Regions from separate parts of the Homo sapiens genome. Here region 1 is linked to region 2. Evidence: fine-mapped expression QTL. A gene starts in region 2. The other region holds a variant in brackets. All regions are shown on one strand. Distances are from middle to middle. Region 1 has its middle 37 kb from the start of ARL5A. Region 2 holds the start of NEB (nebulin).

Evidence for each region.
Region 1: its variant is fine-mapped to the expression of NEB in CD4 T cells (BLUEPRINT, PIP 0.95).

Annotation. Positions count from the first base shown.
Region 1 is chr2:151,787,727-151,796,075 of GRCh38, reverse strand. No RefSeq gene overlaps it. Among named protein-coding and RNA genes, the nearest start is that of ARL5A, 37 kb to the left of the region's middle. The variant G/AG (reference allele first, on the strand shown) is at 4,081.
Region 2 is chr2:151,729,292-151,737,640 of GRCh38, reverse strand. It overlaps NEB (nebulin), which reads left to right and starts at 3,165. Exons shown (of 182, transcript NM_001164508.2): 1 at 3,165-3,243; 2 at 3,846-3,929; 3 at 4,456-4,520; 4 at 7,985-8,026. The coding sequence starts at 4,485.

The DNA.
Region 1 (8,349 bases), 58 kb before region 2:
GACCTATGTGATTGCAGCATACTGCCTCGTTTAATTCTTACGTAACACTTACCTCAATTCTCATTTAATTCTGCCTAACTTCAAAAGAGTTTTTAGGTGACTGTATGTTTTTCTCATTCATTCTTTCAGTAGAAATAGCACTTATTTCCTTAAAAATGGTCTAAAAGCATCATGCAGTGGCAGATATATACAAATTTTATGTATTTGAAATCTGTGTGGGCCTACATCAAGGAATGTAAGTAACATACCAGAGTTTGTTGTCAGCATCTGCAGATACTGAAATAGTAAATGGTATACCAGCTTTTTTGGAAAAACAGCTGTGTCATTTTATTCATCTTTTATGCTTGTTCTTCATTTTTTAATATCTGGAATATCCCCTTTTTGCTAGTAAATAACTTTTGTCCCATGAAATTGATGAGATTTTCACAACATTAGAATAACCTCTAACAGTCCTTTTGAATGTGTTCCTTATGATTGATTACCACCCTTTTGGGATTCCATGAGTTGGGATGCCTAGGTGACCCATTATTTTCATCATTACATACTTTGCATTCTAGCCAGTTATTCTATACCAAAATAGATGTTTACTGAAAAAATCTTTTTGAAACAATTCCAATATATTTAGATCCCCAAATTATATTCTACTGTATTTCCTATATTATTACAAATAACATTGCAATGGCCATCTACTTAGTGTGTTTTTTCATATTTAAAATTATTTCTTCTGGCTGTAATCTCAGGTGAAACTACTGGATTAAATGGTAGGATGGGATTTGAGGGTGCCTATTTCAAATTTTCACTATATGTTAAACAACAAAACCCTTTCCGATTTAATAGAGAGATAAGCATATTGTTATATTTTGCACCTATTTAGTTATTGAGACTATTTTTCTTTGCTGTTTTAATACCCTCTGAATTGTTCTTTTGCTTTATTCATTTATTATAATCTTGGTGTTCTTGTGAATAAATTAAATTCTTAAAACAGTAAATATAAGTATCATGTGCTAACCAATTTCACCACTGGAGCTCTGTTTAAATAGTGAATATATTATCTTTTGTCATGTTTTTGCAGATGTGTGTGCAAAACACATCCTAGTATACTGCTTAAATTTTTATAATTATCTTTTCAGCATATAAAGTGGTGTGTTTTTTGAGACAGAGTTTCACTCTGTCACCCAGGCTGGCGTGCAATGGTGTGATCTTGGTTCACTGCAACCTCCGCCTCCCAAGTTCAAGCAATTCTCCTGCGTCAGCCTCCCGAGTAGCTGGGATTACAGGCATGCATCACCATGCCTGGCTAATTTTTTTGTATTTTTGGTAGAGACAGAGTTTTGCCATCTTGGCCAGGCTGGTCTCGAACTCCTGGTCTAAAGTGATCTGTTCATCTCAGCCTCCCAAAGTGCTGGGATTACGGTTGTGAGTCACTGCACCTGGCCTAAAAAATTACAGCCAGGCTTGGTGACTCACACCTGTAATCCTAGCACTTTCAGAGGCTGAGGTGGGCGGATCACTTGAGGTCAAGAGTTTGAGACCAGCCTGTCCAATATGGTGAAACCCCCTCTCTACTAAAAATACAAAAAATTAGCTGGGTATGGTGGTGCACGCCTGTAATTCTAGCTACTTGGGAGGCTGAGGCATAAGAATCGCTTGAGCCTGGGAGGCAGAGGTTGCAGTGAGCCAAGATCACACCACTGCACTCCAGCCTGGATGATAGAGTGAGACTCTGTCTCAAAAAAAAAAAAAAAAAAAAAAAATCAGCCTTGTGCAGTGACTCATACCTGTAATCCCAGCACTTTGGGAGGCCAAGGCGGGTGGATCACCTGAGGTCAGGAGTTCAAGACCAGCCTGGGCAACGTGGTGAAACCTCGTCTCTACTAAAAATACAAAAATTAGCTGGGCACGGTGGCACGTGCCTGTAATCCCAGCTGCTCAGGAGGCCGAAGCAGGAGAACCGCTTGAGTCCAGGAGGTGGAGGTTGCAGTGAGCCAAGATTGTGCCATTGCACTCCAGCCTGAGCAACAGAGCGAGACTCCATCTCAAAAAAATAAATAAATAAAATTTTTAAAAAATTACATAAGATATACATGACTCTTTTGAGTGAAAATCAGAAAAGAGACATAAGTCAAATTGAGATAACCGTTACCAACACTTTGGGACATATAGCAGGGTTTCAGTTAGCAGTGGATGACATACACGGTGGTGGTCCTGTAAGATTGTAATGGAGCTTAAAAATTCCTATCACTTAGTGATGTTGTAACTGTTGTAATATTGTAGCACGGTTTGTTTTTAAAATAAATTTAGCCTAAGTGTAGGGTGTTCATAAAGTCTACAGTACTGTACAGTAACGTCCTAGGCCTTTACTTTCACTCACCACTGACTCACCCAGAGCAACTTCCAGTCCTGCAAACTGCAGTCACATTAAGTGCCTTATACAGGTGTACCATTTTTTTTATCTTTTAAAGAAATTTTGTATAAATTTATGGGGTACAAGTACAATTTTGTTACATCTATAGGTTGCATAGTGGTGAAGTCAGAGCTTTTAGTGTATCCATCACCCAAGTAACATATGTTGTACCTACGTTATGTTTAGATACACAAATACATAACCGTTGTGTTAGAATTGCCTACAGTGTTCAGTACAGTAACGGGCTGTACAGGTTTGTAGCCTAGGAACAATAGGCTATACCATGTAGCTATACCATCCAGGTTTGCATACATAGACTCTATGATCACCCAGTGATGAAATCACTTGTAATGCATTTCTTAGAACAAATCCCCATCCTTATGCAACAAATGAGTATACATTTCTTAGTTTGTTTTGAATACAGAATTCCAAAAACTTCTTTATTTTTCCATGATATACTGTAAACATCATTTACATATAAAACATTTTAATGGATATATTGTGTTTGCTGTTTGGACATGACATAATTTATTTAACCAGTCTAATGTTGATGTACATTGTTGTTCCTTATTTCTTACCATTGCAGTAATTTTACTGTAGTTAACATTTGGATTTATTTTTCATAGAATGAATTCTCACAAGTCCAATCGCTGTGTCAAAGCATATGGCCTTTTAAAAGGCTTTGGTAGCCTGTTGCCTAATTGTCTTCCGAAAAGATTCCCCACATCCTGGTCAATTCTTCAGCATATACACGGCCATCTCTATATTAAGACACTTTATATTAAGATTTGTAAACCTGTTGACTACTGTCACAGGCCACCACCACTCTGGGCATCTTCAGGTCATGCTACATGTTCACCAGTCCTTCCAGCAGTGGGCAGTGCAAAGCTTCCCTCCGCCCACAAGGTTTCTGTGATCTTTAGCCTTTATTGTGCAGTTTACTTGTTAACCGGCTTATAATGTATTCAGCCTATGCTAATCATTGACTCCTTTTGGGAAGGGTAGAAGGTAAAAGATGTATACAATCTCTCAGCTGACCTTTTTTTAATGTTGGGGAAGAATAATGAACAACTTTTATTATCTACCATAGACGGCCAGTCTTCTGCTTCTAGGATGCTCTCCCACCAATGTGTCCATCTATGCTGTCAGCCCTAAATGCCAGTCCTGTGTAGGAAGTCCTGTGTTCATTCAGAAAAGTCACCCAGTGTCCATCCATTTATGTCCATCATATTAAAAACAGTTGAGTTATATGATAAAACATGCTACCATTAAATATTTTAACAGATTTAAATAATATGAGGAAATTATTAATGGTTGTGACATGTTAAACAGGATAAACAATTTTTTTATAATATAAACTTTTACATCTATCATCTGAATTATGCGAGAACAAAAAACATAGAAAAAAGATAGGAAAGTACCTTGGGAAGCTGAGGCCGGAGGACTGCTTGAGCCCAGGAACTCAAGATCAGCCTGGGCAACATGGCGAAACCCTGTCTCTACAAAATGTTTTTTAAATCTAGCCAGACATGGTGACAGGTACCTTATAGTCCCAGCTGCTCAGGAGGCTAAGGTGAGAGCATCACTTGAGCCCAGGAGTTCAAGGCTGCGGCGAGCTGTGTTTGCACTCCAGCCTAGGTGTCAGAGTGAGACTATGTCTTTAAAAAAAAAAAAAA[G/AG]AAGAAAGAAATGTATTATAACATTAGGAGTTGTAGGCGGCAACATTACAACCAGTATTTTTCTGATTACGATTTTGTATGTTACAGATATTCTATATTGAGCGCATTATACCAATAATCAGAAAACATTGCTGAATCATTTTGTCTTTAAAGAATCATCTAATAGGGATGGGAAGGAATACAAAAGTTGTATTAAGTAAATGGGATGAAGCTCTCAGTTCAGAGATCAAGATGATTGGTAAGTGGAATACTATGCAGCCATAAAAAGGAACAAAATAATATCCTTTGCAATGTGGCTGGAGGTTGTTATCCTAAGCGAATTAACATAGAAACAGAAAACCAAATACCACATGTTCTGACTTATAAGTGGGAGCTAAACATTGGGTACTCATGAACATAAAGATGGCAGCAATATTGGGGACTATTAGAGGGGTAAGGGAAAGGGGGCCAAAGGTTGAAAAGCTTTATTGTACTATGCTCAGTGCCTCGGTGATGGGATCATTTATGCCCCATACCTCAGCTTCATGCAATACACTCAGGTAACAACCTGCACATAAATCCCCTGAAATTAAAATAAAAGTTGAAATTAAAAAACAACAACAACAACAACAACAAAAGGTGATTGGTAAAAATTCACTGATGCAATGCCATTTGCAACCTTCAGTGCAAGTCTGATTTTGACAGAGTTCTTACCAATTATTGCAGATGTAAAGAGATTACCTTTTTAGCTTATGCCTTGATATTATGTGTTTTGCTTTAGATGGTTTGGTGGTTGGTTGGTTTGTGGGATAGGTTCTTTTTGGCTGTGTAGTAATGACATCAAATGCCCGCAGAGAATTAGTTGTAAATGGTAATGGTCTTTTTAAATGGTTTAACTGCTGTACTCAAAATACTCTTCAACCTGATCTGGTGTCCTAAAAGTTTAGTACTTCTAATAAGATCTAACATGTGGTTGCATTTGTTATAAATGCCAAAGTTATATTTAAAAACACCCAAAGGGGCTGGGTGTGGTGGCTCACACCTGTAATGTCAGCACTTTGGGAGGCCCAGGCAGGAGGAGAACCTGAGCCCAAGAGTTTGAGACCAGCCTGGGCAACATAGTGAGACCCGCATCTCTACAAAAAACAAACAAAAAAAATAGGCATGGTGGCATGTGCCTGTTGTCTCAGCTACTTGGGAGGCTGAGGTGGGAAGATCACTTGATCTTGGGAGGTTGAGGCTACAGTGAGCCATGATTGCAACATGCAACACTGCATTCCAGCCCAGGGGACCATGAGACTATCTCAAACAAACAAACAAACAGACAAACAAAAACCCACTCCAAATGTAAAGTGAATAGTTCACATCAGGTGTACTGGAGGCTATATGAAGAGAGACAGTGATAGCAAGAGTCAACAGTCCTTATAGACTAAAGTGAGGTGGCAGTAGTAGTAGGCATTGGGGAACCACTGAAGGTTTGCTTGTTTTATTTTGTTTTAAGACAGGATCTTGCTGTGTTTCCCAGGCTGGAGTGCAGTAGCATGATCATGGCTCTTTGCATCCTTGACCTTCTGGGCTCAAGTGATCATCACACCTCAGCCTCCCAAGTAGCTGGGACTACAGGCACATACCACCACGCCTGGCTAATTTTTTTTTTTTTTTCTTAGAGATGTGGTCTTGCTATGTTGCCCAAGATGGTCTCAAACTCTTAGACTCAAATGATCCTCTCACCTGGGCCTCCGAAAGTGCTGGGATTACAGGCATGAGTCACTGCACCTGGCCTGGGAATAACAGTTTAAGGCCAGCCTCTTAAAATGAAAGTTATTGTGGCAACTTCTAAAAGATGGGTTGAAAAGAGAGGAAACTGGGGATAACATCATAAATAGATTATTATATTATCCCTGGTGAAAGAAAATGAAGGCCTGAAACAAGGCAGAGAAGGCAAAGATAAACTTGATATCTAATGGAATATGGGTAAGTAACCATATAAGTTATCAGCCAAAATGGGACATGCTTAAGAGTCAAAGAAGGCACTATTAATAATTACTCCAGCATATCAAAATACCACATTATACCCCATAAATACATACAATTTGTCAACTAAAAATAATTTTTTTTTTAATTCATGAAAAAGGGGGATAAGAAGAAGAAAAACATTCCTGCAGGACTGGTCTGGGCAGAAGAGGAGTTGTGGTAACTAGATATGAGGAGAAAGAGAGGAAGGAGGCACAGAGCAGTTGGAGCTTGCTGCCTGGAAGAATGACGGTATGATAAAGAGATGGGATGATGTGAAATAATTCACATTGTTAATTATGAAGTGTGTTTTGAATCACCTCAGTGTTACCCAGAAACGACACTCGGTTATCATGTTCAGATAGGGGACAATGTGTTTTTGCAGTGATAGCAGTGGAGGGGAAGGGTTGTCAGCTTAAGGGGCAGTTGGTCATTCTGTCATCAAATGAATTAGTAGCAAGACTTGACCAGCATTTGTGAATAATGAAGCTTTTCTTGCTGACAAACTGCTGATGTTTACATTGGGCCATTATAATAGGCAATTTAATGTCATTAATGACCTTTATATAAAAAATAACTCGTGAATGAATGAATGTAGTGAACATTAAGTACTGCTAATAGAAAAAAAAAGGGCAAGGCTTCTTTGCCAACTTGGCAGAATGATCATCAGTATTTCTGCCTGTTCTTTGCCTCAGGTACACACATATTTATTTATTTATTTATTTATTTATTTATTTATTTATTTATTTATTTTAGTTTTAGAGACAAGGTCTGACTGTGTTGCCCAGGCTGGACTTCAACTCCTCAGTACAAGTGATCCTCCTGCCTGAGCCTCCTGAATAGCTGGGACTACAGGCCTGCACCACCATACCCTGCTCTAGTTACACAAATCTTAAAATGATGCTGTTATGTTAATTCAATTAAGAAAGTAAACTAGTTCTATGATCCAAGCACATAGTTGTGACTCAATTCATGTTGTTGTTTTTAATCCTGAAATGATATTGTAAAATAAGAGCTTTGCCTTAAAGTTTTTGTTACTCAGTTTTTACATTTGAGGTAAGAAGGCAAGTGGCAGGGAAGAATGATTAGCAATAAAGCTTTTTAAAAGTTCTTCAGAAACAGTAGACAATTGGTTGAGTCAAATTGACCTATAATGACTATTCCCAGGAATTTCCTAGTTCTTATTCCTTTGGAAGGAATTGTAACTACCTTATGCCATGTAAAGAATGCTGCTATTTTACGTTTATTACAAAGATGTGCCTACAGATAAGAATCAAACTGGAGAACTTTAAAAATGTTTTAACTTTACCTGATCTTTTTCTTAGAAAGCTAACTGTAAGTAGGATATGGTGCCAAGAAAAATCATCAGCCTGATACTGTGAAAAAAAGACACCCTATTAATATGCCCACAACATTATCAGCAAGCTAAGTAACATCCCTGGACCTTAGTTTCATTATATTTTTAACTAAGTATGTATCAGAGCCCTTAACACAAGCCCAATATATTTTGGAACCTCAATAAATAGTGGTTTTGCTGATTGTCTTTTTAACAATTTCTAAAATATTGAATACTGGTTATTATAATTAAATGTATTCTAAACATCTATTCTTTCTGTCTCATGCCTTGATCTAGCCTGTTCCTTCCACCTAGAATGCCTTTTCCTTCCTTTTCTCACATAGCAATCTTTGACATATCCTTGAAGACTGAGCTCTCCCATCAGCCTGGGAGGCCTGGCCTGATCTGGAAGACGGTTCAGCACGTCTTTCTCTGTTGCCATAGTGCGGGATTTTTGTCTATTTTCAGCAGGTCGTTCCAGACTGCAAGCCTCTGGAGGGCAGTGACTCGATCCCATTCAGCTCCATATCCCCACTACCAGCATGGCATGCATTGGGGGTGTCCATACATATACAGAACAGAAACTTTCAGGGTTTGGCCAATTTTACTTTTCCTTAGCATGTATTATCATAAAGTGATGTAAGTACTATATGCCTGGATTTGTCTTATTACTACATCTATTTGTTAGTAAAAGGAGGTTACATGTTGCCTTAGTGGTTTCTTTGCACTTAAATATTTTTTAAATTATTTGGTTCTTGGCTGGGAACTTAGTCCAATATGTCTGCTAAAGTATTTCCCATTTCTTGCCACCTCTACAATAGTGCCATAATTTCCAAGTTGATTTGACATGTATCATCTTTATTCTCACAATCCTGAGAGGTATATAGAGCAAGAATTAAGTTCTACATTTAACAAAAGAGAAAACACACAGAGATTGATTG
Region 2 (8,349 bases):
CATGTCTTTTTTGGTCTCCAGGCATGACACTTCTATATTTTCATATTTAGGGAAGCCTTATCTGAAGTTCCGATATTGGCACCTAACTGCCCTGCTTTGGTTTGTAGCCAGTTGTACAAGCTTCTAGTCAGATGCCTGCGTACTCATAAATTCTTAGACTAACTATTGTCTGATTTTAGAAGCTTCAAGATATTTGGTATTTCAGTTAAATACAGAATAAAGCGTGAAGCTTCCAATATAATGTAAAAAATGATAATAGTAAAAATAATAATAGCTAACATTTACTGAACACTTACCATGTGCAAGGCATATAATAAGAACCTACCAATAAATCAGGGTGCCAATGTACTGTCGTTCCACAGAAGAGGTCATAGATAGGCCAGGAAAATAAAGCTGTTCTTTCATCTCTAGAGGGCATCATTCCAGATTAGAATCTGCAGAATTTAGTAAGGAGGTGGCAGTGTTTTTCTCTAGTGTGACTAGGAGGTAAATATAAGCTGCTTGCTGGTTCACTCACCCCTGTGTAACCATGGTAGGAATATAACCAGCTCTCCTGTGAGTCTCTTACTTCTGATGGCTTTGCAAATTATTAGGGCAACCTGCAGCAGGCCAGTTTAGCAGGGGCTTTGGGGCTTTCTTTTAGGAGGAATTTATCCCAAGAGATCTAAGCCAGGGTAATTTCATGTGAACTCACTCTTGCCCCACCCCCCACCCTAACTTTTTAGATGCACACTTCATTATGAATGGAGTTTGAGGTTCTGCTCATCTGTAGCACTTCTATTTACTATCATAGTGGTTTCAAAAGTAATGTATAAAGAGTGTCTTAGTCCATTTGGTCTGCTATAACAGAAATAATATAAGCTGGATGGCTTATAAACAGAAATTTACTTCTCATAGTTCTAGAGGCTGGATGTCTAAGATCAGGGTGCTGGCATGGTTGGGTTCTAGTGAGGACTTTCTTTCAGGTTGTGGCTGGCCATCATCCCCCTGTAACTTCACATGGCAGAGAGAGTGCCAGGCAGCTCTCTGGGGCCTCTTTCATAAGTGTACTAATCCCATTCGTGAGGGCTCCACCCTTATGACCCAATCACTTTCCACACATCGGGGGGTAGGACTTCAACATATAAATTTTGGGGGGACACATTCAGCTCAGATAGTAATGATTTTTCAGTCTAATAATCCCTAAGGATATTGAGATGTGTATACATAGGAACCCTCATTCTCTGTTAGTGAAACATAAAATAGTGTAAGGATTTTGACTGGCAACTTGACAATATCTATCAATTTTCAAAATGTGCATATATCTTCTGCCTCAGTATTTCTATTTCTAGAAATTTACCTTACAGATACATTTCATATAAGTATACAAAGGTAATGTACAGGGATGCTTACTGTGTGTTTTGTTTCGCATTGTTTTGCTTTATTTTGTAATAGCAAAAACCTCGAAACAACCTAGATGTCCATTAATAATGATTAAACTATTATACTCTATCCAATCAATAGAATTATTTGTGGAAATTAGAGTAGGATATGTTTATGTGATGTTTCATAAAAATGTCTATTGCATATTAAGTATATCGATTTATGTCAATATCTATATTGAAAATATCTGAAACTTAAAAATGACTAAGAAGGTCAATGCTCATTTTTTACTTTATATAATTTTGTACTCTATGTTTTTAAAGTATGGGCCTGTATTATTTTTTAATTCAACAACACATTTTAAAGCATGTAATGACTAGTAAGTCACAATTCTAGTTTGCAGCTACCAAGTGAGTGATCTCATATTACATAAATATCCTTTGGTCATAAGACCTGTGAGAACATACAAGATGAACAGGTATAATCAGTTAAGATGATAAAATTCTGTTAGATTTTATTTACTACCATGTGAATCATGGAGGGGGAAAAGGTACATGTATTTGAAATATGAGATTACTTTCTCAAACTCCTGGCCTCAGACAATCTGCCCGCCTCGGCCTCCCAAAGTGTTGGGATTACAGGCGTGAGCCACCACGCCCAGCGAGATTACTTTCTAATGTTTAACTTAAAAAAGAAAAAATATTACAATATGTTTAATCTCAAATCCATATCAAGATATAGGTGACTCACAGGGTTTTGCCTGAATACAGGAGCAACCCAGAGAAAGAGCAGTTCTCTGTCACATAAGAGCCTGTGATTTCTGTCGCTGTGTGTAAGGACAGACAGACAGACAGATAGAATTAGATTTTAAATTAGAAAAAATACTTCAGGAGCAAAGAAAGTGCAAGAAAGACATCAGGCAAGTTTTAAGAAAATGGTTAGATAATTTTTATGAAGGAAATGTCTTACGTTCGGATTTGCCAAATAGGGCATTATTTTCTCCTGATAAGTTACTGATTTCCATGTTATCTGCTCTTGCTGTTCAGAAATTGAGCCTGTTTGTGTCCGCATTCACACGTTGCTTCTGGGAGCCAGGAGTCATCTGAGTTAATAGAAAAATCACTAACTCGGTTACATATGAGAGAGGTTCTGTATTCCTAGCAGCTTGCCTTATCTAAGGAGGGAGAAGGTGCTAAATAGGATTTTGGTATACCCTCTTGGTTTAGTAACAGAAAAATGATGGGGTCTAATCTTTCTAATTACACCCTGTGGATATCTTATTTAGTGCCATTGTCAAATATTTTCACCTTTAACTTCACTCATCACATTTTTAAAAATTGCTTTTGTCAACTTGATGTTTACTGGGTCTTATTCCTCAGTTTCTTTCACACTAGCACCAGTAACTTACCTGTAGCTCACCTGGTGAACCTTACCAGAGTGAGTACATTTACCACCATGACTGGACAAATGACATGAAGAAAGCAGTCACGGAAGGGTTAAAGCCTCTCAAAGTCATGCTTATTTTCTACTAAATTCTTTTGCATGAATATGACATTGAATGGGGCCTCAGTAAATGGGAAATTCAACCTAAAATTGAACTGCACAGGCTGGAAGTTAGGTAAAATTTGATTCCATTTGAATTGTTCTAAGCAAGCAATTTGTTACCCTTTATCCTTTAGTGGAATTGATGAACAGGTGGTTTTCAGAAGATCACTTGGTAAATTTAGCTTCTGAAATTTGAGCAACTCAAGATCTGATTGGTTGCTCTTGCCACATGATAATTCGGAGCCCAGGCATCACGCTGGCTTTTGCCTGGGGTTCTCAGGAGGGGAGAGTTGGGAGAGGCTTTGCTGCTGAGGAAATTTATTTGGTAGATTGAAGGTAAGGCCAGTTTATGACTTTTTCTGTAATACTCTTTCAGGAGATGCTCCACAACTTCCCTCGAAGTATTTTTCAAAGGTTTGGGCCATAACTGAGGAAATTAGTGGTAGAAATATGGCTAGGAGAGTTTAACCCCATTGCCCTACTAAGGCCCTACTAATATCTGCTATGTACCGTGTGTGATTAGAGTCAAGTCCTTTGCTAACCAATTTATTGCTTGACTGAATTGGCTCTCTTGTCTAACATTTTTTTGCCTTTGATATTTTTCTCTAAATATATTAGTGTGAAAAAGAAGATACGCTGCTCTACGTTCCTATATTTATCCTGTTCTACTGGGCTTCATTTGCCTGAGGAGTGGCAGTTTCGCTAGCTTAACAAAACCAGCCACTGCAGGGTATTGGTTTACATGGCAAACATCTTTGGATGAAGGGACAGCTGTTCCAACTCATCATCCACTTCATATCAAGAGTCTTACTCTCTGGCGTCAAACTGTAGAGGCCTTGAGAGATCCTTTCGCTGTTTTCTGCATTAGAAGCTTAGGCTAAGGACTGACAATCCTATATGTACCTCAATCAATGCTTTACAACTTTGTTATTTTTCAGGTTTGAACGAGAGCTACAGAAACGAAAGAAAAAGTCTGTATAAGCCAATGGTGTTCGGGAAGAAAATAACCCCATTGCCTTGAGGTTTCTTTTTTTCTTTTAAAATTTATTGACAGATGTATTTTTATGGGTTCCAATTTGAAGCCTAAGATATATTGCAAACAGTGGATCAGGGCAGTATGGAAAACTAAGTCAGCCCTCTTAGAATTTTGGTGCTGGGGGATAAATTTCAGCTTCTTCTGAAACCCAAGCTGACCTTTCACTAAAATTTTTGCTGGAAAATGTCTTTTCTCTAAGTGTTTGGAAGTTTAAATTCTCTGTTCCCTGAGTCCAAACTCTCTCACTTCCTTACCTCAATTTCGTTTTACAATTTTAACTAAACTGATTATGTAGAAGTAGCAATTCCCAACACTGAAGGAATAAAGAGAAAGAAATTTGAAGCTTCTGCTGTTTATACTTGTATTTTAAATGTCTTCTCTCCTTTAGCCTGCAACAATATATGAATTTGTACAATAGTTTAGCTTCAAATTCTATTTTTATAATGTCATAAGATAATTTCTGTGCTGGGAATAGACTCTAATATGTTTTCATTTGTATGGAATATGAAAAGTTTGTAGGTGCCACTACTACTCTGGAAAAATGGCAGATGACGAAGACTATGAGGAGGTGGTGGAGGTAAGATTTAAAAAAAAAACACTGACAGCAAACTATTTTATGTAGTGACAATCAAAGCTGTGTAGGTGAATTAATCATTCGAAAAATACATTGTCTATTATAACTTCACAAAGAGTCATCATTTAAAGCATAAGAAAGGAATATTTTATGTTCAGTTTCACTATAATTATGTGGGATTTAGAATTGACAGGAAATATCACTGTTTCCCACTTTTGCTTTTCTTTAAGCTCTCAAAAAACCAAGTTGGAGTAAAGGCAGGTTTTAATTCGTCTTCTAAAACTGCTTTCTTCCCCACTTCCCAACCCCGATGTTCAAAGGGACAGAGACGAAGAGAAAGTTCTGAAAATGGAACTCTGTCTCTTAGTATCTGTATAGCAATAGAAGAAAAGATCTACTCCTTATTCTTTGCTTCAACTAGCTAATCATCTATAGGGTAACATGGGTTAGATATTCAGAATAATCATATGTATGAAATTATATGCAGATGTGAGACTTTATACATAATACATACACATGTGCACAGACACACACATACAAGCAAATATAAATAAAGGCATGAAGGTCACAGCGATTGTTGGAGCCACACCTTCCTACCAACTTCATTATATTTACCCAAGTCAACAAGACTAGCTTTTGCTTTTGAATTTTGAATAAGAACAAAGACTATAGTGGGTATCTTGAAAATTTTCCTTCCAATTATTAGTGGACATCTAACACATTTTACAAAGCTGTTAATCATTTATTTTATATTTATTTTACATCCTTTTGTTTTTATCATCTTACGGTTTTTCCTCACCGGCTCTTGCCTTTAGCTTCACATTCTAGAAATAAAATCTAAAGGCTTGGAACTATAATGCACATAAATACAGTGCCATGAATCTGAATGTGCTTAATAATTACCAATTAATGATGATGATCTAAACACATGAAAATCTCCAAATGCCTAAGGCACTTGGAGGCAGTTTTGAAAATCTGTGCTTTTTAATAAGACTGAAATTAACTGTAAGAGCTACCCAGAACCAAATTTTAGGTGGCAGTGCCAAAATTTCTCTTTGGAAAATTATTTTAGTGACCAGTCTATATTTAGATGAAGAAAATTTTATTTATTCTACAAATAAAATAGCTTTTATTACTGAAGGATATGAGGGAAAAAATAGAATGAATCTCGTACAATGTAACACTCAGCCTCTCTGGCTTAAATGCTGATACCACATCTTTCATGCTGATATTATCACTAGTGTGCATTTTACTTATGTACCTAAGGGTCAGAAATATCACTGTCAAACACTAATACAATTATAAATTAAATTGTCTTCCCTATGATAATAATGCCAGTAACAGTTTTTACTCTCCAACTTAAATATCCCTTGTCTTTCTTAAAATAATTGTGTACCTTTGCCACTGGAAATTGTCCTTAGTGCTAGACTTGATTGATTCAACTAGATGTCATAAAAAAGGAGGTGGCTATTTTTAGACATCCCATCCCTACCATTTTGTTCCCATTACAGCATCTGTGTCTGACCAGCAGGTGATAAACGAATAGACTGCCTGCCAGAAAGTATTGAACTGAGATCTCTTTGACCTCAAAAAAGATCATGAGCATAAGAGGGTGGTGCATTCGAAAAAATGGCCAGGGAAGATTTTAGAAAACAGAGAGGAACTAGCTTTAAAAATATGCAGAAAACAGAGAAGAACTGGCTTTAAAAATATATCTCCTTGGGATCTTGGACATCTGAAATAAAGTTTTACTGTTCTCTCTACTCTAACTTAAACTTGAAAAGAAAGAGAGAGAAGCAAGGATGCACTATCTAATTAGTGGCACAGCTCTAAAAAAAGAGTGAGATTTGGCATACAAGTTAATGCCAACCATTTAAATAATGTTGCCTCTTTTATAAGCGTATTTCTAAGATGGATTTACCAATGGTGAGAGCCCAGCAAAGGTAAAATTGAATGGTTTCCAAGGAGCTGCTTTTAAACTTGGATGCTGAGAAAATCCAAAATAGTTGTGAATCTTCCATTTTATTTTAATATTTCTTCTGAAGCCACTGATGTTTTGTGTGACTGGAGGAATGACTCTATGTGGCGTCAGCATCAAACAATATTTTCTAGTGTCCAAATGATATTTCTCATGTGCTGAAAAGTCACAACTGTAAAAAAGCAAATCTCTGTCCTGTCAGTGCTTGTGATTTTTGTTGCTATGTGTAACGACATACAGGCAGAATTAGATTTTAAATTAAAACAATAGCTCAAGAGTAAAGAAAGCACAAGAATGAGGAACATTAGGCAAGTTCTAGACGATTGTTAACGCAGGTGAAATAGCACAGGCGGCCTACTGACAATGGTTAAGTAATTTGATGACACTTCACTGAAAAGAATGCAGGCCATTGAGGGAAATTTTGCATCTTAATGTTTTCCCTTCCCTTGAGTGCTGTATGTTTTGGTGTTAAAGATAAGAAAAAGGAAGCATAAAGTGTTTTACATCCTTTTTTTTTTTTTTTTTTTTTCACTAAGAAATGAGCCAAGTGTTTCATCTTTATCCCTTTCCTCATGTGCTTGGCCTAAACGAGCCTCTCCTTCTGTTCACCCTACAGAGCAGGGTGAGGCTAAGGACAGGATTCCTCTCTCCTTACACATCTGAAACCAAGTGTCAACCAGTTCCTTTCTGCATCTATTTATTGCTGGTGATGTCAGAAGTAGAACAAAAGTAGACTTGGTTTCAGATCCAGGCTGCAGATCCATCATGCAGGCCATGATGACCTCAGAGCCACTATGGCAAATTGCAGCCTACCTTTCCCACACTTTGTGATGAAGAATCTTCTCATTTTCCCCTTCATTACTTGGCATTTACCAGTTTTCATATTAGCACCACTCTGTTTAGGACAATCACACTATTGAAAGGGACTCACCCATCACTCCAGAAGAAACTTATTACTTACTAATCAGGAGGGTATAGGAATAATTGAGATGTGGATATACCTTGGGATCTTATTATTTCCATGATGCAATCCATTTAAAAATGTATTCACACTCGAGTTTCTGTTTTAGTTTATTGTTAGTTTGCAAACAGTGAGTTTTATCACAGTTCCTCTCTGCCCAACCCACACACTCAGGATCTTCTTATTGTATTCTCTTCTCAGCAAATTCTATCTTGGGGACCATAAGAAAAAAATTTCCATGTCCCAGTAAAGTAAAATAGCTTCTCTTGATTAAAAAACAGCCTCATACATTTTTCTCAGCCCTCTGCATCTCTTTGTCCATTTGGATGGCATTCACTTTAGCTTTCCTGAAGTATTACAAAGTGAAGATGGGTTCCAAAATATGAACAGGCTCCCTCACCTACCCCTTTCCCACAGACATTCCAAATCAACCGAGCTAGTGCAGTCACCTAAGTGGTTCAGCTGAGGCAGAGGAGAGGTGGTTTCTGCTTTGGTTCTCTTGCCAATGCCTTTGTGCTCTATTTACAGTACTACACAGAAGAAGTGGTTTACGAAGAGGTGCCGGGAGAGGTAAGGCCCAGCCCACAGCTGCATAAACTGCATTCTCATTAAAGCAGGAAGAGCTTTCTCCTTTCTTAGACTCCCAGGGCCACAAAGATGGCAAAAGGGATTATCTGACAGAGGATCACTCACCTACCTGTGCCCAGAAGCTGGTGTGAAAGCACAAACATTACCTGTTTGATGGATTATTTCACCTTTTTTTCCTATTCAAAAAACGCAAGATGGCAGGGGGTGGTTCCCCCTATTTCTTCTGTGTGATATTTTTGTGTAGATGAAGCTAATTAGAATAATGTCAGTGGCTATCACCATTCTCCAACAGCAGCAGGAGGGAT